Homo sapiens: one gene and its partners. The protein of the gene in region 3 binds, or shares a complex with, the protein of the main gene of each other region. Each region holds a gene or a part of one and is shown on either strand. Other genes may lie near its edges.

Evidence for each region.
Region 1: C9orf78 (region 3) and AKAP17A share a complex: the UniProt entries of both Homo sapiens proteins name them as parts of the spliceosome.
Region 2: C9orf78 (region 3) and PPP1R8 share a complex: the UniProt entries of both Homo sapiens proteins name them as parts of the spliceosome.
Region 4: C9orf78 (region 3) and TTF2 share a complex: the UniProt entries of both Homo sapiens proteins name them as parts of the spliceosome.

The regions. Positions count from the first base shown.
Region 1 is NC_000023.11:1,594,376-1,603,005, reverse strand, and holds the end of AKAP17A (A-kinase anchor protein 17A), read right to left. Parts: intron 7,623-8,630; coding exon 7,474-7,622; intron 3,815-7,473; coding exon 3,574-3,814; intron 2,869-3,573; exon of another isoform or gene 2,799-2,868; intron 2,348-2,798; coding exon 1,412-2,347; 3' UTR 486-1,411; downstream 1-485. UniProt on the Homo sapiens protein: Splice factor regulating alternative splice site selection for certain mRNA precursors. Mediates regulation of pre-mRNA splicing in a PKA-dependent manner.
Region 2 is NC_000001.11:27,825,199-27,834,297, reverse strand, and holds the start of PPP1R8 (nuclear inhibitor of protein phosphatase 1), read right to left. Parts: upstream 3,517-9,099; 5' UTR 3,463-3,516; coding exon 3,407-3,462; exon of another isoform or gene 2,515-3,406; intron 1,543-2,514; coding exon 1,482-1,542; intron 1-1,481. UniProt on the Homo sapiens protein: Inhibitor subunit of the major nuclear protein phosphatase-1 (PP-1). It has RNA-binding activity but does not cleave RNA and may target PP-1 to RNA-associated substrates. May also be involved in pre-mRNA splicing.
Region 3 is NC_000009.12:129,831,569-129,840,379, forward strand, and holds the start of C9orf78 (splicing factor C9orf78), read right to left. Parts: upstream 3,708-8,811; 5' UTR 3,654-3,707; coding exon 3,571-3,653; intron 3,199-3,570; coding exon 3,139-3,198; intron 2,142-3,138; coding exon 2,090-2,141; intron 1,950-2,089; coding exon 1,879-1,949; intron 406-1,878; coding exon 328-405; intron 1-327. UniProt on the Homo sapiens protein: Plays a role in pre-mRNA splicing by promoting usage of the upstream 3'-splice site at alternative NAGNAG splice sites; these are sites featuring alternative acceptor motifs separated by only a few nucleotides. May also modulate exon inclusion events.
Region 4 is NC_000001.11:117,104,281-117,108,538, forward strand, and holds the end of TTF2 (transcription termination factor 2), read left to right. Parts: 3' UTR 1-3,173; downstream 3,174-4,258. UniProt on the Homo sapiens protein: DsDNA-dependent ATPase which acts as a transcription termination factor by coupling ATP hydrolysis with removal of RNA polymerase II from the DNA template. May contribute to mitotic transcription repression. May also be involved in pre-mRNA splicing.

The DNA of each region.
Region 1 (8,630 bases), on a different chromosome or scaffold from region 3:
CTACTAAAAAATACAAAAAAATTGGCTGGGCACGGTGGCGGGCGCCTATAGTCCCAGCTACTCGGGAGGCCGAGGCAGGAGAATGGTGTGAACCCGGGAGGCGGAGCTCGCAGTGAGCTGAGATCGTGCCACTGCACTCCAGCCTGGGTCACAGAGCGAGACTCCGGCTCAAAAAAAAAAAAAGAACGACCGTCTTTTAAATTTGCTTTAAAAACAGCTCCTTGGCTTTAAAAAAGATTGGTTTTGGGAATTTGGCTAAGTTTATGTTCTCAGCAAACAAATCAGATGCCTCTTAAGAGCCAGGATTCTCCTCTCAGAAGGTTACTACCGTACAGCTGCGGGAGAGCTGTGGGATATGTCATCGTTGAATCAGCAGTTCTAGGAAAAGCGAACGATCTCTACTGGTTTCACGCACACTTGGCTAGCCTCAGCTGAATAATGCAGTCCAAGGAACATAAAAACACAAAAATCGTAAGCGTGAAAAATTTTAGTTCATTGGAAAAGGATTTTATTTCACCATAAAAATGCAAACTGGAATAAACACCATCTTTCCTAACGCGAACGTTACAGCTATTTTTAGGTATTTCTGAGCTTCACTTGGAGAAGCAAACGATTATAAAACAAGTTTGCAGCCTGAAATCTGTTTGAAACATTCCAAGTAAAAATAATTTAGCAAAACAGCTTCTTAAAAAAACCACACACACTAACCTTTACTAGAAACCAAAGCTTTTAACCAATCTTTTTTATGCTTAATTCCTTGACGTTGTAAAAAGTGAATGTTTTTGAAGGAGCATCAGACCATTTTGTACCACTCCCCACATACCGACACCTTAGAAAGAACGGCCCGTTTGAGTTTTGATCTTAAAGGACTTGTACCTTCCTCATCCGTGACTCAATGTCAGCACGACGATTCGGCATCCCACCCAAACTGCACTTCCTGATCAGTTAACATTACAAACGGGGGGGAAAGAATCACCAGGGCAACGCTTTCTTTTCAGTGCCAGTGTGACTATGGTGGCCCGTGCACCTCCTAGGCCGTGCACGCAGGGAGGTCGCCAAGCAGACACAGAAATCCCCGTGTGGGGGAATGCAGCAGCTCTGCCATCCTCACGACTGTCGGTCTGTGCAATTTTCCTGACTGAGAGAGGACCGGCCGCATTAAAGCTATCGGATCAAGTTTTAAAGGACTACGTGTTTGAAACTGAAGTGCCAAGTACGCTGCGGTGAGTGGAGAAAGATGGATCTCTAAAGCATGGTGTCTTCCTTCCTGCCGGCGGGCTCCGTGGACATTCGTGGCTGCAGAAGGGTCTTGGCTTTGCAGGGGTGGACGGAGAGCGGCCAAGGAGCGGCCAGGAGGCTCGAGCAGGTCCTGGTCTTTCCCGGACAGGCCGTGGGGAGGCCGTGCCCGTCATTACCTGTTCCAGGTACTGCGGTGCCTGCTCGGGGACCGGGAGCGCGACCGCTCGCTTCGGCGGCGGTGGCGGCTGTGCTTCCTGCTGGCGCTGCCCCTCCGCTCCCGGCTCCGCTCCCTCCGGTGCCTGTCTTTGCTGTGGGACCTCCGGGACCGGGTGTGGTCCGGGCTCGTGCTGCGCCGGCGGGGGCTGTCATCCTTGTAGGCGTGCTTCTTGTGGGGCCGCCGCTCCTTGCGTGGCCTCCCGTCCTCCCTGCTGCTGGCCCGCCTGGCCCGGCTCCTCTCCCGCTTGTGCCGGTCAGCAAGCCCGTCTCCGGTGGCCCGGCCCCGGCCCTTGCTGGGCTCCCGGTTGCACTTGTCCTGTTCTGACCGGGTGTCCTTTCTGGAGACATTCTGCTCGCAGGCAGGGATGCCCTTGGGCTGTTGGTTGTTGTCAGGAATGCAGGAGAGGACGCCGCCCGGGCACCTCTTCTCTGGAGAGCCATCCTCGGGGACCACACGACAGGAGCTCTGAACCTCCTTGCATGGGGCCTCCTCGGCCACGCTCCCGTTCACGCTTTTGGGAGCGCCGTCGGCCTCTGGGTGGGCCGGGCTCTCCTTGGGGGCACCGGCCGGGGGCTGGCCCCCGAGGGGGTGCAGCGTGGTGGCGCTCACACAGCCGGACGACACGGTCTGCAGGATGTCCAGGACGGGCTGCAGCAGGTCGGCGTGTGCCACGCCCAGCTCGTCGTGTGTGTGGCTGTCGTCCGGCTTCTTGCTCAGCAGGATGCTCAGCAGCCGCTCGCGCAGCTCCCGCTCTTTCCGCTGCAGGCCCAGCGCGCGCTCCTTCTCCTCCTCCACGCGCCGCAGCTCGGCCTCCTGCAGCCGCCGCCGCTCCTCCTGCTGCTGGAGCCTCAGCTTCTCCTCCTTCTGCTCCTGTTCCCGTAGCTTCACAGCCTGCGGGGAAGAGGAAAGTGCAGCTGAGCCCGGTTCCTGAGCCTGGCCGGACACGTGGGACAGGAGCTGGGAAGGTGTTTGGAGGCCCCATGGTCTGGGGATGCAGGATCAGCGGCCTGGCTGGACTCCAGCCCAGGGGTGGGGGGCGTCTCCTACGGCGAGCCAGGTCCAGCCCGTCCATCCCTCGGCTCCCGCGGCCACACCTGGGGCCATCATGCGTCTGAGTGAGAAGGAAACCCCTTGGCAAAGCGGCTCGGCGCAGCCCCAGGGCGGGCCTCTTGGGCAGAGCCGAGCCCTGCCGGGAGCCCCACCACGTTGCACACAGGCGCCTGCGGTTAGGTCACAAGCGGCCGCCAGCAACAGGGAGCTGAGATGACGCCGCAGACGCATGCCACCGCCGTAGCTGCGGGGCGAGCCTGGCCTAGCCTGGGTTAGTGTCTTCAATATTCACCATGAGGTAAGGACTGGGCTGCCACATGTCTCAGCCTCTTGTCATGCTCCTTCCCGGGGACTTATCACAACTGTAATCAGACAACAGGTTATGGGGTCGCCCCGCGTTGGACTCCAGGGGGACGCAGCCCTCCTGAGGACAAGGAGCGTGCCGGGGACGTCTGTCCTGGGGAGGTCTGTCTGTCTGTGGGCCCTGGCCCCGGGCTCATGGGAGTTACCAGTCGCGCCTGCAGGAGGAGCAGGGAGGCTCTTGGTGCTGAGGGGGTCGTCAGTACCGGCGCTGGTGAGACCTGTCAGGTTCACGCTGCGGAGGAGGGACCCGGGCCCACGGCAGGCCCCCTCTGTGCGCTCAGCCCTCCCCCCAGCCCACCTTGCCCCTCTGCTCTGGGCCACTGGTGAGGTCACAGCCAGGCCAGCTGACCACACACAGAGGCGCGGGCCAGAGGGAGCGGCCCCCTGCACTCTCTGCCACTGCCCCGACCCAAAGGAAACAGAGAGCCTCTGCCCTGGCCCCCGGGAGGCTGCCAGCCTGCTCGGGGAACCTGAATGCACCAGCTTTGCAAAAGGAAACCGTCACAGCTCTGAAATCATCGGGAACGACAGACGAGCGCTACACCCTCCCGGGAAGGAGCCGTCATCCTCGGCATTAAAGCTGGTTTCGTAGCTACAGCTGCAGCCGGCGGGGAAACGGCGCCGTGACGCCGCCCGCATTTCAGGGGAGGGCACTGAGGGCAGCCCGGGCGCGGCTGGCGGCTGCAGAGGGAGCCCCCGGGTACCTTGGCTCTGCTGAGCAGCTCGGCGATGAGCCGGATGGACTGCAGGTTCCTCTGGGCCAGCAGCAGCTTGCGCTCCTCCAGCTTGATCTTCTCCTGCAGCTGCTTCTGCTCCTCCGCCTGCAGCTTCTCCAGCTTCTTCTGATTCCGGCGCAGCTCACGGTCCCTCTGCTTCTGCTCCCTCTTGCGAAGCTTCTCTTCTCTTTTCCTCTCTCGCTCCAGCTCTTCCAGCTCCTTTTGTTTCCTGTGTGGAACACACCGGGGGTGGTCACAGAGAGCGCCGCAGCCAACACACCACACACCATACAAGCGGCTTTCCAAACACGGCGGAACAGGCCACGGTCCAACGATTAAGCATTTAACTCTTTATCCCAAGGTGGACCTCGGTTGACTCAAAGCAGCCCGAGAGGTGGAAGGAGTGAGCCGGGCGAGGACCTCCGTGACCTTCCAACACACCGTCCTGCTAAGTGTGACCCAACCCTGAAACCACGAAGAAAACGACCACTGGACCGACCACATCAAAAGCCACGCCCCCAGTCAGGGGAAAGACGGATGGGCAGACGGACGGGTGAAAGAGGAACCCCAGCAGGCCCAACAAGGCCCCGGGATGCACAGCGGCGCGGAGGACGCCGGTTCTGCCCACCAGGAACCGCGCTGGGTGACTCCTTGTTGTGCAGGACTCCTGTGAGGGCACCACACAGCACTGGCACGGGGGGACCTCTCTCTAAACAAATCCAACCACAGCCACGCCACTCAGCTCCTTGCACTTTTCCTGTGGAGAGGGGTGTCCAGGAAGTGAGGATGAATGCGGCCGGGGAGGGGCGCGGTCCCCAGAGAGAGTCCACAAGAGACAGTGGGGAGTTCCCTAGCTCAGCCTCCCCCGCCCCGCAGCTCTCAAATGCATTTCAACCAACACCGGACATGGGAACAAGTCGCAGCTGTTCCTATGGAACACGACACGGAGGCGGAGACTTCTGAAGCCCGGGTGGGCGCCGCCAACCGCCTAGTGAGGCCACAAAGCCCGCCGGGGTGACACAGACCCACGCAGACACCAAGGGGAGAGGAGACACGGGGACAAGGAGGAGCAGGCCGGGAGAAAAGGCATCCCACGCTCTGCCACCCCAAGAAGGGGGCCGGGCCAGGTGCCGACGCCCAGACAGTGATCCACACGGTCTCCGGGCGGGGCATGCAGGTCCTCAGGCAGTTTCATGTGCTGAAGGTTTAACCGCCCTGTGAGCTGTCACCGCCCCACGAGCTCGGAGGGCGGCTCAGGGCAGCCCAGCACACAGCACGCCCTTAGGCGGGACCCACAGCGACGCCTCGAGGCTGGGCAGCTTTCAGAGGACAGCTCTCATCAAGCTCAAAGTTACACGTGAGGGCTGAACAAGCAAACATGCCTCATCTCCACCCACCAGAAAGAAATGCAGGAGGCTGCCCTGGGCCTCCCCTCATGCTCAGCCTCTGAGGAAGGACAGTGGGGGACAGCGGGGACAAGTACGGCCCTGCGTGTGGAGCCCTCCTGGCCAGCTCCCCCAGACAACAGGCCTGCCCCTCCCCGGGGCTCTGGACACCCCATCCTGCTCTCGAGAACCTCATGGCCCGGCCCCGCTTCCCCCAATCCCTCTGTGGTCTGGCCAGGCAGACGGGGTCCCTTCCCTGCAGAGACACACTCCACTACTCCAACGTCCATCTCTCCTCAGGGAAAGATCAAGGATGCAGCTTCTTCTCCGCACCCGCAAGCTGCTTTCTGAAATGTTGCGGGGACACTCCTGCGACACCGAGAGGTCCGAGGCTCTGAGTCCCACTCCACACTTCCAGAATGTGGACAGGCACATTCAGCCAGGCCTGGGCTGTGTCTGCAGCCTGGAAGAGTCCCTGTAACGCCCCAGGACTGTCTCCCACCCCAGCTGTCCTGCTCGGCCTGACAGTGGCTGACACAGGGGACCCGGACTCAACCCCACATCCGAACCGCCCCTCCCAGGGACCGCCTCCCAGGATGGCGACGCAGCAGCATGTCCCTCCCTCCCAGGGCGTCTGCCTCTCTGTGCTGCCTGCCTTAGGTCCTGGGAATCCTGACGGCTGACATGGGCCCCCCCAGCACATTCACGGCCACTCGCTTACACACTGCACCTGCCTCACCTAAGGAGCCCTCGGGGTTCAGATTCAGAGGCTGACAACCCGACTCTCCCCTGGGGAGGCAACGGGGGCTACGTAAAGAACACCACGGGCAGGATGGACCTGCTCCCAGGAGTTCAGTGCCGGGACTCTCGTGCAAACATCACCAGCCACACACATCAACACGCTGGCACCAGCGTCACATAAAGCAGTGAGAAATGGAAACAAAACGGACCAACTCGGTCCCACCAGAGGCTGTCCAGGAGCCCCCCAGCCAAGTCCAACACGTCCCAGACTTGATATCGGCGACATGAAGCGCAACAGACGTGCAGGACGCACCAAAGTCGTCAGAGGACACAGCGGGAGGGACGGAGGACGAAGAGGAGTAGGAGGAGGAGGATTCCGCCTCACTAGGAGGGTGGGAGGGACGGAGAAGGAGGAGGAGGAATCCACCTCACTAGGAGGACACGGCAGGAGGGATGGAGGAGGAAGAGGACGAATCCGCCTCACTAGGAGGGCACAGCGGGAGGGATGGAGGAGGAAGAGGAGGAGGAGGAGGAATCCACCTCACTAGGAGGGTGGGAGGGACGGAGAAGGAGGAGGAGGAATCCACCTCACTAGGAGGGTGGGAGGGATGGAGGAGGAGGAGGAGGAATCCACCTCACTAGGAGGGTGGGAGGGATGGAGGAGGAGGAGGAGGAATCCACCTCACTAGGAGGGTGGGAGGGATGGAGGAGGAGGAGGAGGAATCCACCTCACTAGGAGGGTGGGAGGGATGGAGGAGGAAGAGGAGGATTCCGCCTCACTAGGAGGGTGGGAGGGATGGAGGAGGAGGAGGAGGAATCCACCTCACTAGGAGGGTGGGAGGGATGGAGGAGGAGGAGGAGGAGGAGGATTCCGCCTCAGGGGATTCACAGAAAGTTGTTGGTTCCCTCCTGCAATGCTAAGAAGATAAAAGGGGCTACAAAGAGTGACCTGAGGTTGTCTCTGGTACCCCAACCACAGTGAACGACCCAGGCAATTGCTTTAAAGGCCTCTTATGTGAAACCGGGTTTTTGTCCTATCATTGGTTTTTTGTTTTTTTTTTTTTTTTTAAATCTGGCCATCACCATCAACCCTCTACTTCATTTTGTAAATGTAGCCTCAACCTAAATGCAAACTTGCAAACAGCCAAGGCATTCTGCTTGTTTCAGCGGGAGGTGTGAACAGCATGTGGAGGGAGAAGAGGTGGCTCTTCGGGCAAGGCGCGGTCCTGGGAGCCGGCAGAGATCGTGTCAGACCACGACGTGTGACAAGAAAAAGAGAAACATTCATATTCTGCTGCGTCTCAAACAGCCACTCACGCAGGTCCTCACGTGCACAGCTGAGCACCCACAGGCCTGCACACACACCCATACGTGCACACACAAGTACACACACGGGTTCACAGGCACACACGCATGCACACAGGCACATGTGTGCTATGTGCCGATACAGAAGCACACACATGTGGGCACACGTGCACATACACACACAGGTACACACACGAGCTCACACACATGCACGCACACACAGGCACACGTGCACACAGATGCTCAGGCACACACTCGGGCGCACATAGGGACATACAAAGTACACACACCGGTTCACAGGCACACGTGCGTCCATGCACACAGGTACACACACAAGCTCACAAGCATGCATGCACACACACACGCACAGGAATACATGCAGACACACGCACACGGGTCTGCGCACACTCCCAGGTGCCGGACACCAGCGCCGAGGGCCCGCTCCCGCAGAAGGTACCTTTCCTCCGCTCGCTGCCTCTCCTCCGCTTCCTTCTCTCTGCGCTTTTGTTCTTCTCTTTGCTGCTCCAGTTCCTGAAGCTTCTGCCTCTCCAGCTGCCGCTTCTTAATTGAGGCATCACTCAGGTGTTTGGTCGAATCAAAAGAAACCTTTAAAAGCAAAAACAGTGTCAGATGGCCTTCCCCCAAAACCCCCCAGACACACGGCCAGGCGCCCTCTCCTGGGCCGTAGGGCCGAGTGGCCTCAGAGCCTGAGCGCCCGCTCACCGCTCACCGCTCACCACTCATGTCCGGTGCAGACCCAGACAGTGGAGCCCAGAAGCCAAACCAATCCCTTCAAGTCACCATCAGTGGCTCAAGACTTAGCTCATCCCACGGAGTTACGACTCAGCGAGGAACACCAACTAGCCCTCGCCACTTACTGAACACAAGTGACACGCCACCGCTGCGAGACACAGCTCCCCTTCCGCTACCCGGCTCCACCATTCCCTGTGGCCACAGTCACTGAGCAGGCCGCCTGCCCACACCCACAGGGCACATCTTAAGGCCACAAAACCCCCTCCAGGAGGCTGGCTCATTTGTCACTGTGAAGCCAACACGGTCAAAACACGAGGCTAGGCTGAGCGCAGTGGCTCACGCCTGTAATCCCAGCACTTTGGGAGGGCGAGGCAGGCAGTTCATGAGGTCAGGAGTTCGAGACCAGCCTGGCCAATACGGCAAAACCCTGTTTCTACTAAAAATACAAAAATTAGCCAGGTGTGATGGCACGCGCCTGTAGTCCCAGCTACTCGGGAGGCTGAGGCAGAAGAATCGCTCGAACCCAGGAGGCGGAGGATGCACTGAGCAAAGATTGCGCCACTGCACTCCAGTCCAGGAAACAGATCGAGACTCTGCCTCGAAAAAAAAATAAAAATAAAAAAAATAAAAAAAATAAAAAAGCACATGAGGCTAAAGGGAACGTTCAGCCCTGGTTTCAAGGTGCATTCTGGGAAGGCCGGGTTCTCTTGGTTCTGACACGGTTCAAATCCCTGTCAGAGTTCCTGAGGCTCCATCCCTCACCTACTATATGACCTGTGTCTCCCCCACATCTTCCTTAAGATACCAAATTTCCAAAACCACAGCACGGGACCCCTACTCCACCTCACGCCTGTGCCTCTG
Region 2 (9,099 bases), on a different chromosome or scaffold from region 3:
ACTTAACAACATCGAAAGAGAACGTTATCAGCTAATAGACACCAATGATCAGAGGAGTGTCTGGCAAGTTAGAGTGTTTTGAAAATGTAATACCAATTATTCCACAAAGGAATGTGATGTTATCATTAAGACTAGGCAACCCTGTCTGTTTCTTCCTGTTGCAAACTAAAGATTTGCTAAATTCTAGTAATAAAACAGATCCCTATATGTCTTCAAGCTTTGTGCTATTCAGCAACAAATATTTTGTAACTGTGGAACAATCTATAGCAAAAAAGGTTTTACAGATATTTTAGCTAAATTATTTCTTTGAATAATCTTGAGGTTTTAAATCTTTAAGAGAGAAGAACCCATGACAAAGGGGCTCTCTGTGACTGGCTGAGTCCATGATGTATTCATAACAGGAGAAATCATTAAAACTCGTGCATGCCTTAATACTTTGCAAAATACCTGGTTATCTCTACAACATCTCAAAAGTGACAACAATATATTTACAGAGTAACCTTCAAAAGATCTCAGATAGCTTTTCAATCTAGCAACCGTGGAACTGCAACATTTTTATTAAATACCAAAAAACCACAATGAAAAAACTGCATTCAATAATGGGGCCTTGAACCTAAATTCTAGCTGAGCAAGCAAATATAAAATTGGTCTAATATGGGAGACTCACAGCTACATGGTCATAGTGGGCTTAATATCCATCTCTTGGTAAATAAATAATACCGTAAGGATTATAAAAAATTTACGCAAACTAATAGCTAATAAAAACTCATGTTCTCTTGAACTCCTATGTGGTGTTCTCTCTAGAGGCTTGTATAAAAGCTGGAATTCTGCTAAACTTTTATAGTACTTAATTCAAATATAATTATGTAATTTTTTGGTGTGATTCTGTCTCTCCCACTGGATGACTTGAGGACAGAAATTATGTTGGTTTTGCTTACTGCTGCAATCTGTATGCCAAGCACAGTAACTGGCACATAGTAAACACTCAATACATGTTTTGAAAGAATCAATTAATGAATTTCACCACAATTCCATTATCTTTTTGAGTAAATGTCTTAGTTTACCATACTTCTTATAAGGAGTTGGGCCTGAATGTCTTAAAATTAACTTAGAAGTTAAACTCAATATATATCATTCACTTTCTTCAGTTACTGCATACCTTGCACGGTTTACACAACTCCATGTACTCAGGGAGAGGGAATTAACCAAGCTAACAGGGCTTCCAGTTTGACTGGGGCCCACAGGACCCATGACCTATTAAAACCCTTCATTTGAGAGAAGTCACAAAAAATTGAGTGTCTGTGGTAGACATAAGCTTTAAATGTGTGATGTCACCATGTGCTTTTAACAGAAAAAAAAAATCAGGATGAAAGAAAGTAGCATTGCTGGAAAACAAAGCACAGGAGAGGGGGTGGAAAAGTGAGTCACTGGCAAAAATCTTTAGTGTGGCAGCCAAAAAAGTAAGACATGTATTTCCATACCTCAATTAGTTTGTCTCCTTTGACTACATCCAGATGTAAACCGGGAGGGGGCTTACCTGCCCTGAAAAATAAAAATAGAAAAAAGCATTTTCAGGATGGGTTTATAAATGCTATTTACAACCATTGTCCCATTCAACATTGCAGCTCTCCTACCAGCCTATAATTAGTTCATGTTCAAGCAGAAATGTCATCCACTTCACTGTTATTACAGCTCCATTCTACGTTTGACACTTACTTCCCTAGTGATTCAATTGCTCTGCAACAGATTTTAGTAGATCTGTATTTAGAGCAGCACCAAGAAACCTATATTTTAACACTGGATCTTCACCTCAGAGAAAGAACTGCATAGAGAGTGCAAGTACGATAGCTGGGGTGGTCTAGTCACCTGGAGTTTGAATCTGAAATCCACCCCTACTCCAATATCATATAAAGACCGAATAAATTAGTTGCTGTTTGGGGCTCATCAAGATTAGTCTCATCACAGAGTAAGCAAAGAGTACTGTCCTGAGCTCTGAAACCAAATCAGAGGTGCATAATTAGGGAACTAGGGCAATTCAAAATCATGCCCCATGAAACCAGGTACCAAATGAATATGTTACCCTTGAAACAGGTCTTTCTACAACAGCATGATTAGGGGACGTTTCCTCTATATCCTACAGCCATACCATTCAAGGGAGACTCATATGTCAAAGCACCTAACGGTGCCTGGTACCTACCAGATCCTAAGGAAAGGGTAGGTGATCTCAAAAACAGTGCTTTCTAACTATGTTTGCTATCTCGGCCCAAATTTGAAATCAATACAGCGAGGGATCAAAATGGATACAGAATTTGTAGACTGAAGCAACTACTACAAAAGTGCAAAGCGATCCAGAAAATAGCCACACATTTGCTTGCTTTTTGGGTTTGCTAATTTGAAGTTAGAAAAAAGAACCACCTCACTAGAACCTTTAGATTTGCACATGAAAAAACGTATCCTTGTCTAGCTAACTGAAGATTCAACACAGTCATCTCACAATCCTGCCCCAACCCCTCCTCTATGGAAAGGACAATGCACCGGACAAAAGGCCATTTTGTCCAGGAAAAAGGAGGAATGTTACATCCAAAACATACTTTCTGAATTCCTACTATGTGCCTGACTCAGGCCTAGGAGCTGGGAATACAAAGATGCAGTCTTTGCCCTTGAGGATGGCAATACAACGGGAGACAGAGACAAGCAACAAACAATACACTGCGATGAGCTACAGCAGAAAAAAACTCTTAATTCAGAAGCGTTTCCTTGTAAGGTAATTCATATTTATTCAACTTGTACCCTACTCAAAGACCAAATTAAATTATTTCATTATTCCCAAGAACTTTCGAAGGGATAAAAAGGGTTCATGCCAACCATTACTAATGCCTACTAGTGCCACAGACTGGGAGCTCCCTGAGGGCAGGGATGGCGCTAACCTACCCTCGTATTCTCTGTGGCAGACAGACAAGTGCCGCACGAGGGATGCAGCAACCACAGAGGGATGCGGGGCTTGGAGGTAGGGTTGGGGCCGGGGCTGGCTCGAGCGCGCTCGGGACGTACAGGAAGGGGCCAGATGCGATGCTCCACGAGAGCACCAGGCACTCAGTCAAGAGTTGGGCGTAAGTTCGGGCCAAGGCCTCGAAGCGCTCCGGCGACTGGCTAATCGCTCAAAGGGGCTGCCTAAGTGAGCGCCTTTGAGCCCCCAACCCCGGGTTTCTTCAGTTCCTGGGCCTGGGCTCCAGGCTCTCGGTTCTTCAACACGTCGCCCGGCCCGGTGCAGCAAACAGTTTTTCCTCAACCATTCCGGGGTTTCTGAGCCGTTCGGCTCGCAGCAGAAAAGTAAAAAAAGAGCCGCCCTTCCAGCCCAGGCTAGCTCCGGCCGGGCCACTCTAGCCCTGGCCGCCCCGCCACTCACCAGGTTGGGCAGTCGAACAGCGGGAGGCTAGAGCCGGAGTTCGCGGCTGCCGCCATCTTGCGTCTCCCCCTCCCATTTGGCGCGCCCTAAGCACGCCGGGAAACTGGAAGACCGAGAAGGGAAAAGCGGCATCCCAGCAGCCTGTGCGTACGCACGCTCACGCACGCCCGTACGGGGGGCGGTGCTTCTAGTGGGGACAGAGGAGCTTTTGGGATTTTTTTTTTTTCAGCGTTTGTGCGAGTTGGCCGTCTCTGGAAGTCTCCAGTGGTTAGGGTTTTCCTTGGCCAGGAGGTGTCAAAGGAAAAGGGGCTTTGTAGGGAGGGGAGTCAGTCTTTCCCTACGTCCTCCTGCAAACGCTTCTTGGCTCTAAAATCTTGGGACTAAGCCGTGCGCGATGGCTCACGTCTGTAATCCCAGCACTTTCGGAGGCTGAGGCGGGCGGATCACTTGAGGTCGGGAGTTTGAGACCAGCCTGACCAACATGGTGAAACCCCGTCTCTACTAAAAATACAAAAATTAGTCGAGTGTAGTGGCACATGCCTGTAATCCCAGCTACTTGGGAGGCTAAGGCAGGAGAATCGCTTGCACTCGGGAGGCAGAGGTTGCAGTGAGCCGAGATCGCGCCATTGCACTCCAGCCTGGGCAACAGAGCGAGACTCCGTCTCAAAAAAAAAAAAAAAAAAAGTAAAGAAAGAAAAAATCTGGGGACTACATCCTCCTCCAGAGTTTAGGTTAAGACCGTCAGCCTTTTGCCCTCAAAGCGGAGAAGCTAAAGGGCAAAACTCGGAGATTGGAGTGATTATTGTTTCTCTTCAGCCCTTCTCCAAAAAGTGGCACCCTACTCACTTTTTTCTAATTCACGTTTAGGCCTGTAGATTGTCAGGGAATCTGCATTAGGGGTCACCTAGTCTGTTTATGAAAACTCTGGACAAGCAGGAGCCAGGAGCAGGTCCAGTCAGAAAGCAGGGGTCCAAATCATCACTGTGCTTGGCTCAAATGGTTAATTTTTTTAAAAAGGATTTTTTGCTTTTGGTTATAGGGCAAGGAAGCATAAGGATTGCTCGCTTGCCCTAGATCACCAGCTGGTTTTAAGAGACCATTAGCAGGGCCTCTGGTTTTTTATTTTTTATTTTTTTATTGATCATTCTTGGGTGTTTCTCGCAGAGGGGGATTTGGCAGGGTCATAGGACAATAGTGGAGGGAAGGTCAGCAGATAAACAAGTGAACAAAGGTCTCTGGTTTTCCTAGGCAGAGGACCCTGTGGCCTTCCGCAGTGTTTGTGTCCCTGGGTACTTGAGATTAGGGAGTGGTGATGACTCTTAATGAGCATGCTGCCTTCAAGCATCTGTTTAACAAAGCACATCTTGCACTGCCCTTTATCCATTTAACCCTGAGTGGAGAGAGCACAGGGTTGGGGGTAAGGTCATAGATCAACAGGATCCCAAGGCAGAAGAATTTTTCTTAGTACAGAACAAAATGAAAAGTCTCCCATGTCTACTTCTTTGTACACAGACACAGCAACCATCCGATTTCTCAATCTTTTCCCCACCTTTCCCCCTTTTCTATTCCACAAAACCGCCATTGTCATCATGGCCCGTTCTCAATGAGCTGTTGGGTACACCTCCCAGATGGGGTGGTGGCCGGGCAGAGGGGCTCCTCACTTCCCAGTAGGGGCGGCCGGGCAGAGGCGCCCCTCACCTCCTGGATGGGGCGGCTGGCCGGGCGGGGGCTGACCCCCCCCCCACCTCCCTCCTGGACGGGAGGGCCTCTGGTTTTAATGGCATTGTCTGTTCAGCAGTTACCTGGGCAAGTATGTATTTTATATGGATCATCTCACTTAATCCTGACAATACTCTTGAGTTAGGTATTATTATAATTCCAGAGGAGAGGCTTAGAGAGATTGAGTTACCCAGCTTCACCCTAGAACAAGTGGAGTGGGATCAAAAACCTAAACCTATATGATGCCGAAGGCCATGCTCATGAGTCACTATTCTCTCTTACACTTTGATGTTGGTATAATTATATTTATTATTAGCATGCAACTGATGCCCCTCTTTTTCACTTTTGTAGACGCGTTGGGAGGATTATCTGACCAGTTTTTCCTTTTTTAAATAAATCAATTGCTAAGTTCCTGTTCATCCAGAAAGAGGCACTGCTCAGCAAGTTGAGGAATCTATGATGAAAGTAGTTCTTTTCTTGCTTCCATGCTACTGGTTCTGTAGAAAATCAGCCTATTCAAAAGATTTTTGCCCTTGATGAAGTCTCCAGCCCTCAAGATTTAACTGCAATATAACTTAGAAGGAGTGAGAAGATCAAAAAAGTAACTGCAATATAACATTAACTTGGATTTTAAGATTATCAACTCTTAGGTAGACTGGAGAAACACCTTTTCCTCTGGCCTTTAAAGCACAATAAACTTATCCAGCAAGGATGGCGACTAATCAGATCACTTATCAAATGGCCTGTTAATATCCTCCTTTTCAGCCTTGTGATTCCAAAGTAAGACTAGGCTGATTGGAAAAATTCAAATTCTAAACTTGGTTTCAAGAAAACAGAAATAATCCTATGTCCCTCTCTTCTGAATACAGGGCATGATTTTTTAGAAGGAATTAGTCCCAAAAGTTTTTGAGTCTAACAGAAAAGAAGAAGATACTTTTACCTACAGAAATTGTGTGGGCCTTTGAGGTTCTATGCTCCTTTTAGGCATAACATGGTGTTGAAGCCATTTGCAGTTAGCAGTGACCTGATAGTATCTTATGGCAACTTTGTATTTCAACTTCTCAGCTTGTGTGATCCTTCTATTGCTGACTATAGACCCAGGAAACCTAAAAGCTACATCTTACCTTTCTAATTCTTTACTCCTTGGCCATGTTCTGTTTCTAGCACAGTAGATATTCACACGTGGCACCTTATGCTTACCTAGGCCCTCATAAAGCAAAATGCTCTTTGTTTGGGCACCAATGATGTCAGTATAGACCAGCAAACTAGAGGGCAGCAATCTAGGTCCTTAACCTTTTAAAATAGACTGATGTACTAGCTGCCTTTGGATTTTGGTATCTCAATAAAGAGATTAGTATGTTGGCCTTTGATAGATTTCCTTAGAATAAGATCTAAAGACATTAGAAGAATATTGAGGTCAGAAAACTTTAAAAAGTTTTTAAATTATTATGTTTTGAGACGAATCTTATTCTGTCACCTAGGCTGGAGGGCAGTGGCAGGATTTCGGCTCACTGCAGCCTCCACCTCCCAGGTCCAAGCAATTCTCCTGTCTCACCTTCCCAAGTAGCTGGGATTACAGGCATGTGCCACCATACACGGGGTTGCACCATGTTGGTGAGGCTGGTCTCGAACTCCCGACTTCAGGTGATCCGCCTGCCTCAGCTTCCCAAAGTGCTGGGATTACAGGTGTGAGCCACTGTGCCCTGCCAGAAAAAGTCTTGCTTTTGTCTCCCAGGCTGGAGTGCAATGGTGTGATTTCAGCTTACTGCAACCTCCACCCGCCAGGTTCAAGTGATTCTCCTGCCTCAGCCTCCCGAGTAGCTGGGATTACAGGCACACACCACCACACCTGACTGATTTTTGTATTCTTATTATTTTATCATTTTTTTCTTTCTGAGATGGAGTTTCGCTCTTGTCGCCCAGGCTGGAGTGCAATGACACAAACTTGTCTCACTGCAACCTCCACCTCTCGGGTTTAAGCGATTCTCCTGCCTCAGCCTCCCGAGTAACTCGGATTCCAGGTGCCCGCTACCATGCCCAGCTAATTTTTCTATTTTTAGTAGAGACAGGGTTTCATCATGTTGGCCAGGCTGGTCTCAAACTCCTGACCTCAGATGATCCACCTGCCTCAGCCTCCCAAAGTGCTAGGATTATGCTGGGATTACAGGCACGAACCACCATATCCGGCCTAGTTTTTGTATTGTTAGTAGAGACAGGGTTTCACCACCTTGGCCAGGCTGGTCTCGAACTCCTGACCTCAGGTGATCCACCCGCCTCTGTCTCCCAAAGTGCTAGGATTACAGGCATGAGTCACTGTGCCCGGCCCTAACTATGCTTTGAAAAGCGGGGAAGCAGCAGGTGATTCCCAGACTTAGGGAACAGGATGGACTGAGATCTGAGGTGGGCTCTGGTCTGCAATTAGTGACCAAAAGCAAAAGCTGAGTTCCCATGACTGAGGACAGTCTCTGAATAGAAAAAAAAAAAACAAAAACACTTAATAGAGGTGGCTCAGAATGTTTTACTTTGCATAGACTGAACAGTAATTTCATTTTGATATTTTGCACTGCGGTGGGTGAACCCTCCCATCCCTACCCCTTAGCAAAACACACACACACACACACACACACACACACACACACACACACTCCCCTGGGAGTATCTGTCTAGCATCTAGCAAGTTCTTATTCTGGAACATTCCCAGATTAAGTAGCCACAGTAACATTTCTACTTTACCTTATACCTTATACAGTATCATAGTTTTTTATTTTTCTTTTTTCTTTTTTTTTTTTTTTTTTTTTTTGAGACAGAGCCTCTGTTGCCCAGGCTGGAGTGCAGTGGTGCTATCTTGGCTCAATGCAACCCCCCACCTCCTGGGTTCAAGCAAAGCTCATGCCTCAGCCTCCTGAGTAGCTGAGATTACAGGCGTGCGCCACCATGCCTGGCTAATTTTTATAATTTTAGTAGAGGCAGAGTTTCACCATGTTGTCCAGGCTGGTCTTGAACTCCTGGCCTCAAGTGATCCACCCGCCTCGGCCTCTCAAAGTGCTGGGATTATAGCCGTGAGCCACTGCGCCCAGCCCATAGTTTTATTAATAACTCATTGGAAGAGAGAATGCTAGATCTACCCAGTACTGCTAGGATATTTCATAAAGGAAGTAGAAAAGGGGATGATGGCTCACGCCTGTAATCCCAGCACTTTGGGAAGCCGAGGCAGGTGGATCACGAGGCCAGGAGATCAAGACCATCCTAACAAACACGGTGAAACCCTGCCTCTACTAAAAATACAAAAAATTAGCTGGGCATGGTGGCGGACGCCTGTAGTCCCAGCTACTCGGGAGGCTGAGGCAGGAGAATGGCGTGAACCCAGGAGGTGGAGCTTGCAGTGAGCCGAGTCACGCCACTGCACTCCAGCTTGGGCAACAGAGCGAGACTCCATCTCAAAAAAAAAAAAAAAAAAAAAAAAAAAAAGAAAAGGAGATGAGAAAATGAAAGGAAGATAGAGGTAAAAATACAATTTGTATGTTCACACTAAACTGCCGTGGGTCCTTATAATCAGAAAATTTCGTAGCTGGAAAAGAGCTACCAAGAAAACTTGGGGCCTAAAGGTTAAGTTACTTTTTCTTTTTTCCCCCGAGACAAGAGTCTTGCTCTGTTGCCCAGACCTAGAGTGCAGTGGCATGATCTTGGCTTACTGCAACCTCCACCTCCTGGGTTCAAGCAATTCTCTTGCCTCAGCCTCCCAAGTAGCTGGGATTACAGGTGTGTGCCACTATGCCTGGCTAATTTTTGTATTTTTAGTAGAGATGGGGTTTCACCATGTTGGCCAGACTGGTCTTTAACTTCTGACCTCGTGATCCACCCGCCTCAGCCTCCCAAAGTGCTGGGATTACAGGCATGAGCCACCGCGCCCAGCCATAAGTGACTTTTTCAAATACCCTCAGCAAGTTAACGGCACAGCTAAGGTCTTTTGTACC
Region 3 (8,811 bases):
TGCCCACTACCACACCCAGCTAATTTTGTATTTTCAGTAGGGACGGGGTTTCTCCATGTTGGTCAGTCTGGTCTCGAACTCCCCACCTCAGATGATCCACCTGCCTCGGCCTCCCAAAGTGCTGGGACTACAGGTGAGAGCTACCGTGCCCGGCCTGAAAAGACCTTTTAAGAGGTTTTCAAAGTTCTTAAGCTGGGAAGTAGAAAGAGAGGGGCCAACTTTGACATCTTCTAGAAAATTCTAGAAATGTCATCTGTTGACTAAATATCTTGGACTCTGACTGGAGTCCAGCCCCAACTGCTCACAGCCAAACAGACTGACACTTACATGTCTGCATCCTCATCCCTTCGGTTGGTTTCTGCAGAAAACGATGTCCCCAGGTGCAGGTCCTCCTCCTCACTGATCCTGGAGGGAGAGAACAATGAGGCAGAGCTTTCAAGTCACAACTCAATGAGGCTGAGTTTTATGTTCTAAGAAGAAAACAAAGACATAAGCATTTATAATATCCTATTTACAGTTGGCAAAAAAAAAAAAATGCCGTAGTATATGTAAAGAAAAGAAACTCTAGAAATATATGCAAGCAAACTGTTGGCTGCTAGTGATACCTCCAAGGATTGAGTGGATACACTTATCCTTAGGTATCCATGGGGGATTGGTTCTAGTGTCCCTCAAGGATACCAAAATCTGCAGATAGTGAAGTCCCTTACATAAAATAGTATAATATCTGCATCTAACCTACACACACACTACCATCTGCTTTAAATCATCTCTAGATTACTTATAATACCAAATACAATGTAAATGCTATATAGTTGTCACAAAAGTACACAGTAAACTTTTATTTTTTTAATTTTTGAATTATTTGAATGTTTGATTTATTAATTTATTGAGACGGAGTCTCACTCTGTCACCCAGGCTGAAGTGCAGTGGCGCAATCTCAGCTCACTGCAACCTCTGCCTCCCGAGTTCAAGCAATTCTCCTGCCTCACCCTCCTGAGTAGCTGGGATTACGGGTGCCCACCACAATGCCCGGCTAACTTTTGTATTTTTAATAGCGACAGTGTTTCACCATGTTGGTCAGGCTGGTCTCGAACTCCTGACCTCAGGTAATCCGCCTGCCTCAGCCTCCTGAAGTGCTGGCATTACAGGCATGAGCCACCGCAGCTGGCCTGAATTTATTATTTTTGTTAATTGTTTTTATATGAAACTTCCCCATAGGTTCACTTATTTTATTTTTTTGAGACAGGGTCTTTCTCTGTCACCCAGGCTGGAGTGCAGTGGTGTGATCGCGGCTCACTCTAGCCTCAACCTCCCTGACTCAAGTGATTCTCCCACTTTAATTTCCTGAATAGCTGGGACTACAGGCACATGCCACCACACCCAGATATATACACACACATATATATATGCGTGTGTGTATATATATATATGTGTGTGTGTGTGTGTGTATATGTGTATATACATGTGTGTATATACATATGTGTATATGTGTGTACATATGTGTGTGTGTGTGTGTGTGTGTATACATACACACTTTTTTTTTTTTTTGTAGAGACAGGGGTCTCACTATGTTGCCCAGGCTGGTCTTAAACTCCTGGACTCAAGCTAACCTCAGCCTCCCAAAGTGTTGGGATTATAGGCATGAGTCATCACGCCTACAATACACTCTTACAAAAGGAGTCTACCAACTTGGCTCTAAGTTAACTTTTAAAGACTTTTTGCTTTCTTTGTTTTTAAATAACACACCCTTTGCAAAGCACAAAACCTGCTTCAAGATGTCCTACTAATGCTGCTGCTACAGGCCCCAGCTCTCTGAGGGAACCTAGACCCAGGCAGCCGCTAAAGGTGAATTTGCATCTAAGCTTGTCCTGAACTTACTTATCTTTGCCCCTTTCCTTCAGTTTCTTCATATCCACCATACCACCTGTCTTCATCTGAAAGGGATCATCCTGCAGAAAGCAAACACAGTTAAGAGGAAGCATCTAAATACATGGTAGTGGAATTTTTTTTTTTGTGAAGCACGCTCACTCACTGAAGAGCACTGCAGGGAGGGCTGCCATAACTACTCAGGGAAGACCCCATAACTTACCACTAGAGTGGTCTCCTCTTGTACCTTCTCTCCCACCAGCAAGGCCACAGCACTGAGCAAAACCAAAAAAAAAAGAGAGGGGGAGAGAGAGAAATGGCATAATTCAGAGATAAGGAGGAACCCTCTCAGGTATGCGGATTGCAACATTAGTGCAAGGGTGGGATTTGAGGGGTGGGTAGGCAAGCCGGCTGGAAAAGCCTATAAGCATAAGACAGGGCTCAACGAGCACCGCAGATGCTGGAAGAAGGGTGCGCTGGTGGTGAAGTGGTACACTTTGCCACTTTCCTGTAAAGCCATTTGGCATTATCTTGGCCTGGAAATCTCATTTCTAAGATATTCTCATCATGGAAAGTGCAGCTAAAGATAAATTTAAGAGAATATCCACTGCAGCCTTATTTGATAGTAAAAATTTACAAAATCACCTACATGTCCCAAAATAGGGGATTTGTTAACAAATTACAATACACACATCTGGTGGAATATTATGCAGCCATTAAGGCTTTCTGAAAAATATTCCACAATATGGGTGAATGCCCACAATGTCATAATGAGTTGAAAAGAACAGGGAATAAAAGTACATAGAAAGTTGTTCACAATCTGAGAGAGAGAGACGAAAAAAAACAGATTGGAAAGAGTATTCAATATTAATACCAGTGCATTCTTGGGTGGCTCTGCAAGGAAAAAAAATGTTAACACTGATCATTTCCGGATGGGAGAATTATGGGTGCTTTTTATCGTCTTGACTATACTTTTCTAAATTATACAAACTCTTAACGATCGATATGCATTTCACAATTAATTGGTTTTAATAAAAAACGCGAGTTAGTGATCTGTTTCTGTATCTCTGGAGCACACCCCGAGACGACACAGCTCAGGGCATGTCCTGGTTAAACATTTGCAAAGAACGCTGTTCTCCAAGTTGGGCAGTGGAAGGTGTACAGTGTGTCAAGAGAAAAATCTACGTCTGAGGAGATATTTGTGACAGCGACCCGGACGCGGATGTGTCTGTCGTCCCCGCCGCCTCCTCCTCCTCCCCGCGTGGTACCCACCTCACCCCGTTGGGCCTCTTCCTCAAGTTCTGTACCTCTCTGGTCTCTTCCAGTTTTAATCTTTAAAAAGAAGAAGAAGCAGCAATGCATAAGCTGAGTGATTCCCCGCGGAATCCAAAGCTAACAGAGCCAATAAGGCACCTTCGAGGGCATCCCAGCCCAGCTACTGAGCCACCAGCACAGTGGTCCAGAGGACGACCTTGTGCCTAGACCCACCGGGAGTCAGAGCCACTGCGCATCCCGGAGGCATCTCTCTCAACCGTTCGAGCTTGGGGCGGTGGCCTCACCCCTTGAGCCTCAATTTCTGCGTCCGCAGAAGGAACCACCACCCGAGCTCACAGTTAACAATGTCAGCGAAGCGCCGAGCCGGTGGTGAGTCCCCCAAACAAGTCTATCTTTACCAAGCCTATGGGAGCCCCGCCCCAAACGCACCGAACCTCCTCTGAGTCCTGCTCATCTTCCTCTGACTCCGAGTCGCCCCGGCGGCGACGGAAAATCTTCCGGACGACCGGCATGGTGACAACGGCCGAGTTGTACAGCCGCCGCGCCTCTGCGCAGCGGCCCAGGCTGCTTCCGGCGCGCGGCAGAGCGGTCAGAGCGCCTGCCCCGTCTGGCCCCGCCCCCGGCACGCACAGTCCGCGTGGCCACGCCCCCTCTCCTGGCGTCAGCCTCTTCCGATTGGACGGCAGAGGGAAGGAGGTGGGGCGTCGCCAGACGGCCCCACAACCCTGCGCGTCGCCTCAGAGGGGGCGCGCTTGACTGACAGGCGGCGGCGGCGCAGTTGCGAGTGCAGGTGAGTTCCGGGCCGCCACCGGCTGCTTCTGTGGGCCGGGCCTCTGAGCATTGGCGACCCCAGCCCGGCTCCGGGCTGACAGGGCCTGGCTTCGCCAGGTACGCCAGACGCAGCGGCCCGGTGAGCGGAGCCCGGGACCCCCCCGGCCGCCGCCGCCCCTCTCCCCTCCTCCGGTCGGCGCCCAGGGGGGCCTCTGGGCCCCAGCACCACCCCACTCTGAGCTCCCTGGGGGCTCGTGGCTTCTCCAGAACCGGGGCCGCCCCCCTCTCATTTCTGCCGGGGCCTGACCTAGCGTTGAAAGCATCCGCGTGGCGTCTCGCGTCTCGGGCGCTGACTTTTCTTTCCTCGGGCTCTGAGCCCTGACGTGCGTTTTTTTCTTTCGGAACAAAAGATGACCACTTCTCTGCGGTGCTGACTTAGAGTCCCAGCGCCGACTGCCTCACAAATAATGGCCCCCAGCTTCTCCGCGAGGAGAGGCGCGTCTGATGTTTTGAAGCCACGCAAGAGGGTTTGAGCCGGGGGACTCCTCCTCGGTGCTTGCCGGCCACCCCCCTGGACCTTCACGGGTCTGGTTTTCCTCCTTCGGCAGGTCTGTCGCTCTACCCTCTGCCCCTTCCACCCCGAAGATGCTGTGAGGATAAAGTTTATTTGAAAAACTGGTATCAGCAAACGCTTAGGAAATACCTAAATGCATAAATAATGGCTTCTAGGACTTTTAAGAACCCCTTAAGTAACAGTAGTTTTCCTTTTCTCAGTGTCATCCCTTACTTTGAGAACTACCTCTTATTAAGCAGTTACTATGTGGCAGGCCCTGGGCAAAGCATCATCTCATTGAATTCTCCCAGCAATCCTTTGAGGTAGATTGTTTTTCGTTTTACAAATGAGAATGCGGAGTCTCCGAGGGGCAGTGCACGCCTCAAGTTACCCAGCTAGGAGGTGGAACAGGAATTGGTTGCAGGTCAGTCTCTGCCGCACGGTTTGCACAGGGCCTGGCACGGTAGGAGTGCAGTAGATGTTTGCTGCTGCTGCAGCTGCTGTTACATCTCATTGGCTAGGGGGAGGGGCCGATGGGGGCTGTCTGGGGTTCCCCTTTCTGGAAGACCATTCCGAAGCAGGGCAGCATTTCTAGAATGCCTTACGTTTTCTCTGGAACAGTCTCCACTGAGATTGTTCTTCTCTTCCTTGGGCTGGAAAAAATAGTAGACTCGGGACTTCTTGCACCAGCGTTTTATCTTTGGTCAAAAGCCATATATTAAAGTCTCAAAGTCTTGCCCTCTGCAGACTGGTTCAGCCAAACCCAGATGCACGTGCACTCACTGGATACGGAGTCCCTGTCAGATGATGGAGAGGCTCCTTGGGAATTGCTGCAGGAGTCCAGGGGGTCAACGTCTGCAGCTCTCACGCTCTCAGAGGTGGCTCTGAATCTGCCCATCAAGCAGCCCATCCACCAGGGGGTACTGGACACTACTAAGGAAAGGGCAAGAAGGCCAGGGGCATTTCTGGACCCTCCTCCTCAGCTGAAGTCCCAGGGTACAGATGAGCTGCTCCCACCCTTGCTCCATGAGGCCAGAGGACCCAGTGATAACCACCACCTGTGCTGTGGCAGATCTAATTGAGTGCTCTTTAGCAAAAGGAATGCTGAAAAAGTGGCAGCTATGAATCTGGCAGTAAGTGGCTTTGCCAAGAGACTGCAGCCCAAGTCTCACTGGGCCCTTTTAAGCGTAGGATGAGACTGTCTCTCAAAAGGACCCTCCGAGAAATACAGGTTCTATGCAGTTCAAAGATGAATCCAAGGTCTTAGTCTTGTTTGGGAGTTCAGTTGTTTTAAGAAAATGTACAGATTCAACCTAGGTTTTGGTTGGTTTCCTAGCTCCTTTCTGGAGCCAGATGAAATGTTGGCTTGTTTCAGGGTTCAGGGAGCATTCATGTCCGATTGGATTTGGGATCCAGCAACGTGATACAGTTCACAGCCCAGCTATAGTCGGCATCCAATAAATGTATTTATTGGATCAATGTATTCAACAGATTCTTAGCATTTACTATATGAGCAGGCACTGTTCTAAGTGCTTGAAATAAGTCAGCAAAAGAGACAAAAGATCCCTGATTAGTTGAGTGTATGTTCTCACAGTAAAGTATGTAAAGTGTGTTAGAAGATGGTAAGTGCTGTGGAAAAGAAACAAATAGAGCAAAACAAGGGAATCACCTCCGGGAGGGTGGCAAGGTTGAGTTGCAAATTAAAATTAGCGCATTCTGGTTTGGGATTTGGTTGGAAACATGACAGATAAAGCAGTGGATTGAATGATAGGCCTTGGGTTCCAGTCACTGCCTGGTGGTTTTAGGGGTCTGTAAGCTTGAACTTTATTTTACAAAAGCTTTTATTTAGAGTGTACACCCTGAACTCAAGTCCTGATTGTGGGGTATTTAACAGTGATGAAAGAGCCAGGCTGTTCTTAGCCTTTTACCTTAGCAAGACAAACAGTATCCAACTGGTTCTCATTAGCATGAAGGAGGAAACTTGGAGAAGCCATGCACGTTGACAACAATTTTTTTTTTTTTTTTTGAGACGGAGTCTCACTCAGTTGCCTAGGCTGGAGTGCAGTGGTGCGATCTTGGCTCACTCCAACCTCCGCCTCCCAGGTTCAAGTGATTCTCCTGCCTCAGACTCCTGAGTAGCTGGGATTACAGGCGCCCACCACCACACCTGGCTAATTTATGTATTTTTAGTAGAGACGGGGTTTCACCATGTTGGCCAGGCTGGTCTCAAATTCCTAACCTTGAGTGATCCGCCCGCCTCAGCCTCCCAAAGTGCTGGGATTACAGGTGTGAGCCACTGTGCCCGGCTAACAACAAATATTTAAAGGCAGGAAAGTGGCAGTGCTCTTTGGCTCCAGTGAGCAGTCATGGCTCAATAAATAGAAATTTCAGGAGAGCCAATTTCCATTGATTATAAAGACTTAGGTTTGTAGCAACTAGAGCTGCCCTCTGGGAAAAGGGTGATTTTATCATCAACGACTGCTCAAACTGGGTTTGGAGAACAACCCAGTATGGCTTTTACAGAGCAGAGTTGTGCCTTAAGGGGAAGATGCATGGTTTCTAAACCCCTTTAAACTCTGAGATTGCATGGGGGAAGGCAGCTGCAGATCATGCTGCCTGAAAAGAGAGGATCTGATTTCAGGCCCCAGAAATCATGATTTTCCTAGTTCTTAGTTTCCGCATCTCTAATGTGAGTTTTTTCTAAGGTTTCTAGTCTGAGCTTCGAGACTGAGTTTCTGCTCATGCTTACTCACCACTGAGTGTGAGGCTTTTAATGACCTGGGCCAGTGACTGGCTGCAGCCTAGGGTAGCCCCAAACCCACGCCTTCTCCAATTAAGGGACTCTTCCGGACAGAGCTCAGAGCAAAGGGTAGTAGCAGGCTTTGAGCTGCAGGGAGATACTGTCATATCCTAGACTGAAGGAAGTTAAGCTGAGCAGAAAAATGCTCTGAAGAATGACTCAGAAGAGGCTCTTGTGAGGAAGCTTCCTTGGAGTACGCGTGTTTGGATTTGGGGAGGTGAAGGTCGTCCCCATGCCAGGCTGGCCGGGGCTGTTTGTGACATCGTGGAGCTGAGTGTTCAGAGCATGGGCTTCAGGGCAGGTAGTCGTGGGTTCGAATTTTGGTTCTGCAGCTCAGTAGCTGTGTGACCTTAGCCAGTTATTCCACTTCTCTGAGCCTCGGTGTCTCCATTGTTAGTGATGGAGATGGATTTAGTTTGGAACCTTGCCACCTCCCAGGGTGGTTGTGAGGGTCCAGTGAGGTCACATGTGAGAACACCAGACTAAGATGTTAGTGTCAGTTCCAATATTCAGGGCCGTGGGGCAGGGGGAAGGGCGATGAGGAGACACAGAAGTGTGTGGGCAGCAGAGACTGTGGAAGTGTGGAGGCATGGGGAGGCCTGAGGGCTCTGCTTCGAGAGTCAGAGGATGGTGGCCTCCGAGTGAGGACTGGGTTAAGGGAAGGGGTGGGTGTGTCTGGGACTTAGGGAGAATGCTGTTGTGTGGAGGTAGAGTAAAGACAGCAGGAGGGAGAGAAAGGGTGTGCGAGGGCCAGAGGGGACTGTGGAGGGGGTGGGCACACACCCTGTGCGGGGCTGGGGGTGTGAGATGGCTAATGTGGTTGGGGTCAGCGTGGGCAGGGCTGTGGGCATCGTTGTGTGGGTGGGAGGCCCAGAAGTGTCGCCCTCCCCATCCTGAGGGACTGGTTCCTCGCTGGGAGGAGGAGGATGTAGCCAGAACCTCTGGGAAAACAATGAGTAACAGGCACCAGAGGCAGCCAGGTCCAGATGTGCTGCCTACCTAGGACCACAGGCTGTGCTGGCTGGTCCCTCCCCTGCCCTTCCTCAGGCCTTGCCCCTCCACTTTGCCCCTGTGGGTGGAGTGGCACTTTCCCCCACCCTGGAGGCCCAGGGAAGGAAAGCTGCCTTTATGAGCCTGAAGCATCTTGGAGGTCTCCTGGGGCCAGCAATGGTGGGCTCTTTGCCAAAAGTCTCAGGCCTTCCTCCCCCCATCCTGTGCTCTCCTGCCCCAAGAGAGGAGGCTCTGGTGGGCCGGGAGGGCGGGGCACACGCTGCACCTTGCTGACTTGTTGTACAGTAGGTCCTACTCTGCGTGGCTGCACCTGGAAGCACGTTCTTTCAGCTGCACAGGTGTCTTTCCCTTTTGGCCTTTATGAAATGCCTGCTGTGCACACTCCATATATTTGCACAGAGGCACAGGTGGGACGGAAAGAGTGGGGAAAGCAGACACAACCTGCTCGCTTCCTGCTGTGTTGCTTCCTGTCTGGGACCTTCCATTCCTCCTCTGTGAGATGAGAAACAGCCGCCCTTGCCCTAGAGAGTGGGTG
Region 4 (4,258 bases), on a different chromosome or scaffold from region 3:
GTATCTCATGCTCCACTGGGAATTTCATAGCAAATATATATACTACAACATGGTTGACCAGATAGATCAGTAATGTCAACTAGAAGGTATTAGATGAACATTGTCAGTCTCCAATCAAGCATTGTTTAGGGGAGAGGAATTCTTTCAGGTTCAAGCATTCTGGCTTTTAGTTTGGAGAGGGATGCAGGGATTGTAACTTAAAATCTTCAGATATTGAGGCCATTGACAAGTAATCTACTGTAAGGTAGATGCCTCCTGGTATTTTAAAACAGCTTTTCTAATTTCTCATGTTATTGTACATAAGCAAAGCAACCTAGTTATGTCTTGGGTAGGTGTTCTTATAGCCGTGAGATGCTACTGACTTGAGGTGGATGCAGAAAAAAATGGAACCACTGCCTTAATGGGATGGAATATACTAAACATGCATTCTTAAATCCTAGTGCTGGGATGGATTACATGAATTACATTGTGGAGCTGCATATGTGTCTCCCCTCTTCCCTCCCTGGGGGTTAGGCTGGGTTTGTTTGGTTTTTTTTGTTTTGTCCTCATGAGGCTTAGCATCTAAGGGAGACAGGCATGAATTAACAGAAGTGGCATTCTGGTATCTGTCTCAGCCTCATATTCATTTTAGTGTAAATCAGTTTCGTCAAGTCTAGGTATGACAAGGTGGGTCTTTGCACCTTCTAGCGATGGGCAGCATCCCACAACACAGTGGTCTAATTGAGGTGCTGCACTATGAGTCCTGCCTGTGTTAACCAGCCTTCCTTCATGTCACAATACTGCTGCTGGATTTGCTTTTTACATCTGCCTATTGCACCTGACTTGGGCATGGATGATATGAGGTAATAAATGCTTTGAAAACCATGAAGGGCCACACAAGTGCTAGTGTTATTGCTGTGGGACAAGGTCTGGGAATATGAGAACCAGCAGCAGCATGGGTGCAGCTGAGAACCAGATGGTGAACATCTGTCTCCAAAGTGCAACATTCCTGAGCACCGGATTTATAAGGCATTTCTTACTCGACAGAATTGACTTCATGGAAGGTATGTAGTTTGACTTTGCCTTAGCCATGTTGATCAAATAGGAGTATTGTGCATGCCGCAGCTAGACAGAGTCCTGGGCCCTTTAAAAACCTTGTCAGTGACTCCCATTGCAGGCCCAGCGCAGTGGTTCACACCTGTAATCCCAGCATTTGGGAGGCTGAGGCAGGCAGATCACTTGAGGCCAAGAGTTCGAGACCAGACTGGCCAACATGGCAAAACCTCCTCTCTACTAAAAATACAAAAGTTAGCCAGGCGTGATGTTGGGTGCCTGTAATTGCAGCTACTCGGGAGGCTGAGGCAGGAGAATCACTTGAATCCAGGAGGCGGAGGTTACAGTGAGCTGAGATCATACCACTGCACTCCAGCCTGGGCCACAGAGAAAGAACGGTGATTCTTTCTAGCAGAAATTAGCAGAGTAAGTGTTTTTGGAACAATTGCTAATGAAAAGAAGGAAAAACAGAAAAAAAAAATTTTCTGTTTATGGGAGGTGACTTATTTCTCTATCAATCCTGTGAGTGATTTAGCATGGCAATTCATGAACACTGAGTTGTTTCCTTGCTCTGATTGTCTGTTGCTCAATGAAATGGCTTTTAGCAGGGCTCAAAGGTGAAGCCAGATTCTCCTGCACTAATAGGATAAGCATGGAGACACCAGTGTTCAGTGTGGCCTCTGGTTGTCTGAAATTTTGCTGTCAACTCTAATACCTTGAAAGAATTAGGTTTCCAAAGTGGGATATTGTGCTGCTGTTTGTGATATAGCATCTAGACTTAGGAAAGGGCAGGAACAATTTAAAAGCACATCTGTAGGCACAAAGAGAATTATAATAGAAATTCAGAATTCCTAGGCATATGACCTAGACTAAAATGTCTTCATAACTACAAATGAAATCAGGGTCATTTATAGTACAAACTACCACAGAAGTCAGTAGTTAGGGGATGGAGATAGATATGAAAAAAAAAAAAAGCAAACCCAGCCTAACTCCCAGGGAGGGAAGAGGGGCGACAGATATGCAGCTACACAATGTTTTTACTATCTTGAGTTCTTTTTACCCAGATTCCATAGCTAAATCCAGATGTATTAATAGGTAGAGACTACTTCAGAAAGGATGAGACTATTTTCTTGCTTAATTATCCACACAGTAATTCAGAAATGTATATTGAACACTTTTTATATGCCAGGCACTGCTGGGCACTGGAAATATAAAAGTAAGCAAAAATGAAAAACTATCCTGTCCTCCTGAGGCTTAGCATCTAAGGGAGACAGGCATTAGTCAACCCCGTGTGGCTGTGAATCAGCCATGATGCTGAGTGCTACAAGAGAGGACTGTGCGGCTGGGAGGGCTTATAACAGGATTTGACCTAGTTAGGGAAGATCTGAGGAAGTGATGAAAGAATGGAAATCAATATGTAAGAGCTCACAAGTCAGAGTGAGATGTTTCTTCCTATACTGCCTGCTTCTAATGAGCATCCACTTCATTGAACCACCTCTTCATTGAGCCAAACCTACCATACAGGGATACATTCTCTGGAGGAAAGTTGAGCAACTATTGCATTTGGGACATTAGAGTATGGGTGGGCTGACAGGTATGTGTATGTTTATTATCCAAGACAGCCAAGGTGTTTATCCTGTTACAACATCCCAGAGGACAGAGGCTCTTATTTGTGACTCTTTTTTCTTACCTGTAACACCAGAGGCATAACGTACATCATAATGCTGCATCTTGTTGACGCTTCAATGCTCACAATTCAAAGGTGATTTCTGAAGCACTTTGTTACACTGGGGACAGCTCCTAAATCCTCCCACTCTTTTTTTGCCTCACCTTGGAGTCTTGGGCTCTGTTGATCACTGACTCTGCCAGGTCTTTCAGCAGGCAAGACAGCTCAGTTAAATTGAGTTTGGACTCCACTGTAGTGCATGCATGAGACAGCACCCCCAATCCCCAACACCCACACACAAACTTTAAATATTTGTAACAGAATTGTTACCATTAATATTGCTTAAAGGCTAACACATTAGCCAGAACCTAGATGTCTTCTGGAAATTTTTTATTGCAATGTTACTTCATCTACATAAAGTTGTCCAATCACTGAAACCTCCAACTGAAATAAATGGTAAGCTTTTTGTTCTCAATTCTGAAATCAGATTCATTAAAAGGCACATGGGGATAGATGATATAATACAACAGGCTTCTTCATGGGAAGCAGTTCCCTAGATGTATGAGGTAATTGGAAAATTCAAGGCTGGTCTCTCAGGTGCATATAATTTATCCAACAGACTCGAGATAAGGCTGATTTTTTTTCCAAGTGGTATTTGTTTAAATGACAAATACTGAGGTTCGGGAGAAGGGAAGTCTGGCTTATAAAAACAGATACCAAGGAGATCCAAACTAAAAATTCTACCAATTAGATCTTTATTCACTGATCATAATATTAAGTCTCTACTATGTGCCAGGAACTGTCCTACATCGGGACAGTATGGTAGTTTAAAAATATCCCTGCCCTCATAGAGCTTACAATCTAATATGAGAGGACAGACAACAAACAGAATATATACATGTTGGCCTGTAATCCCAGCACTTCGGGAGGCTGAGATGGCCAGGAGTTTGAGACCAGCCTGGGCAACATGGCAAAACCCCATCTCTACAAAAAATGCAAAAAATTCACCAGGCATGGGGTCGGGGGGGTGGTGTGCCTATGGTTCCACCTACTCCAGGGGCTGAGGTGGGAGAATCACTTGAACCTCGGGAGGCAGAGGCTGCAGTGAGCCGAGATTGTGCCACTGCACTCCAGCCTGGGTAACAGAGAGAGAGAGACCCTGTCTCCAAAAAAAAAAACCACAAAACAAAACATATATATATGTGAGATGGTGATGAAACTGGGCAACTCTGGGGTGGGAAGTTGCTATTTTGTACAGGGTAGTTAGCTAATAGGGTGATTTTTGATACTGGAGCGAGAACTTGAGAGGAACATGAATCATGAAGGTATCTGTGAAAAAAGCATTTCAGATGGAGGGGCAGTGATTCTAAAGGCCCCAAGACAGTGCTTGGAGTTTGAGGAGCACCAGGCAGACCAGTTTGGCTGGAATAGGGTGATGGAGGCGGATGGGTGGGCAGTAAGAGCAGGGATCCAGATCATGCGGGGTCTTACATGCTGATGTAAAGACTCACTTTTCTGAGATGTGCGGCCAATGGACAGTGGTGAGCAGAAGAGTGACAT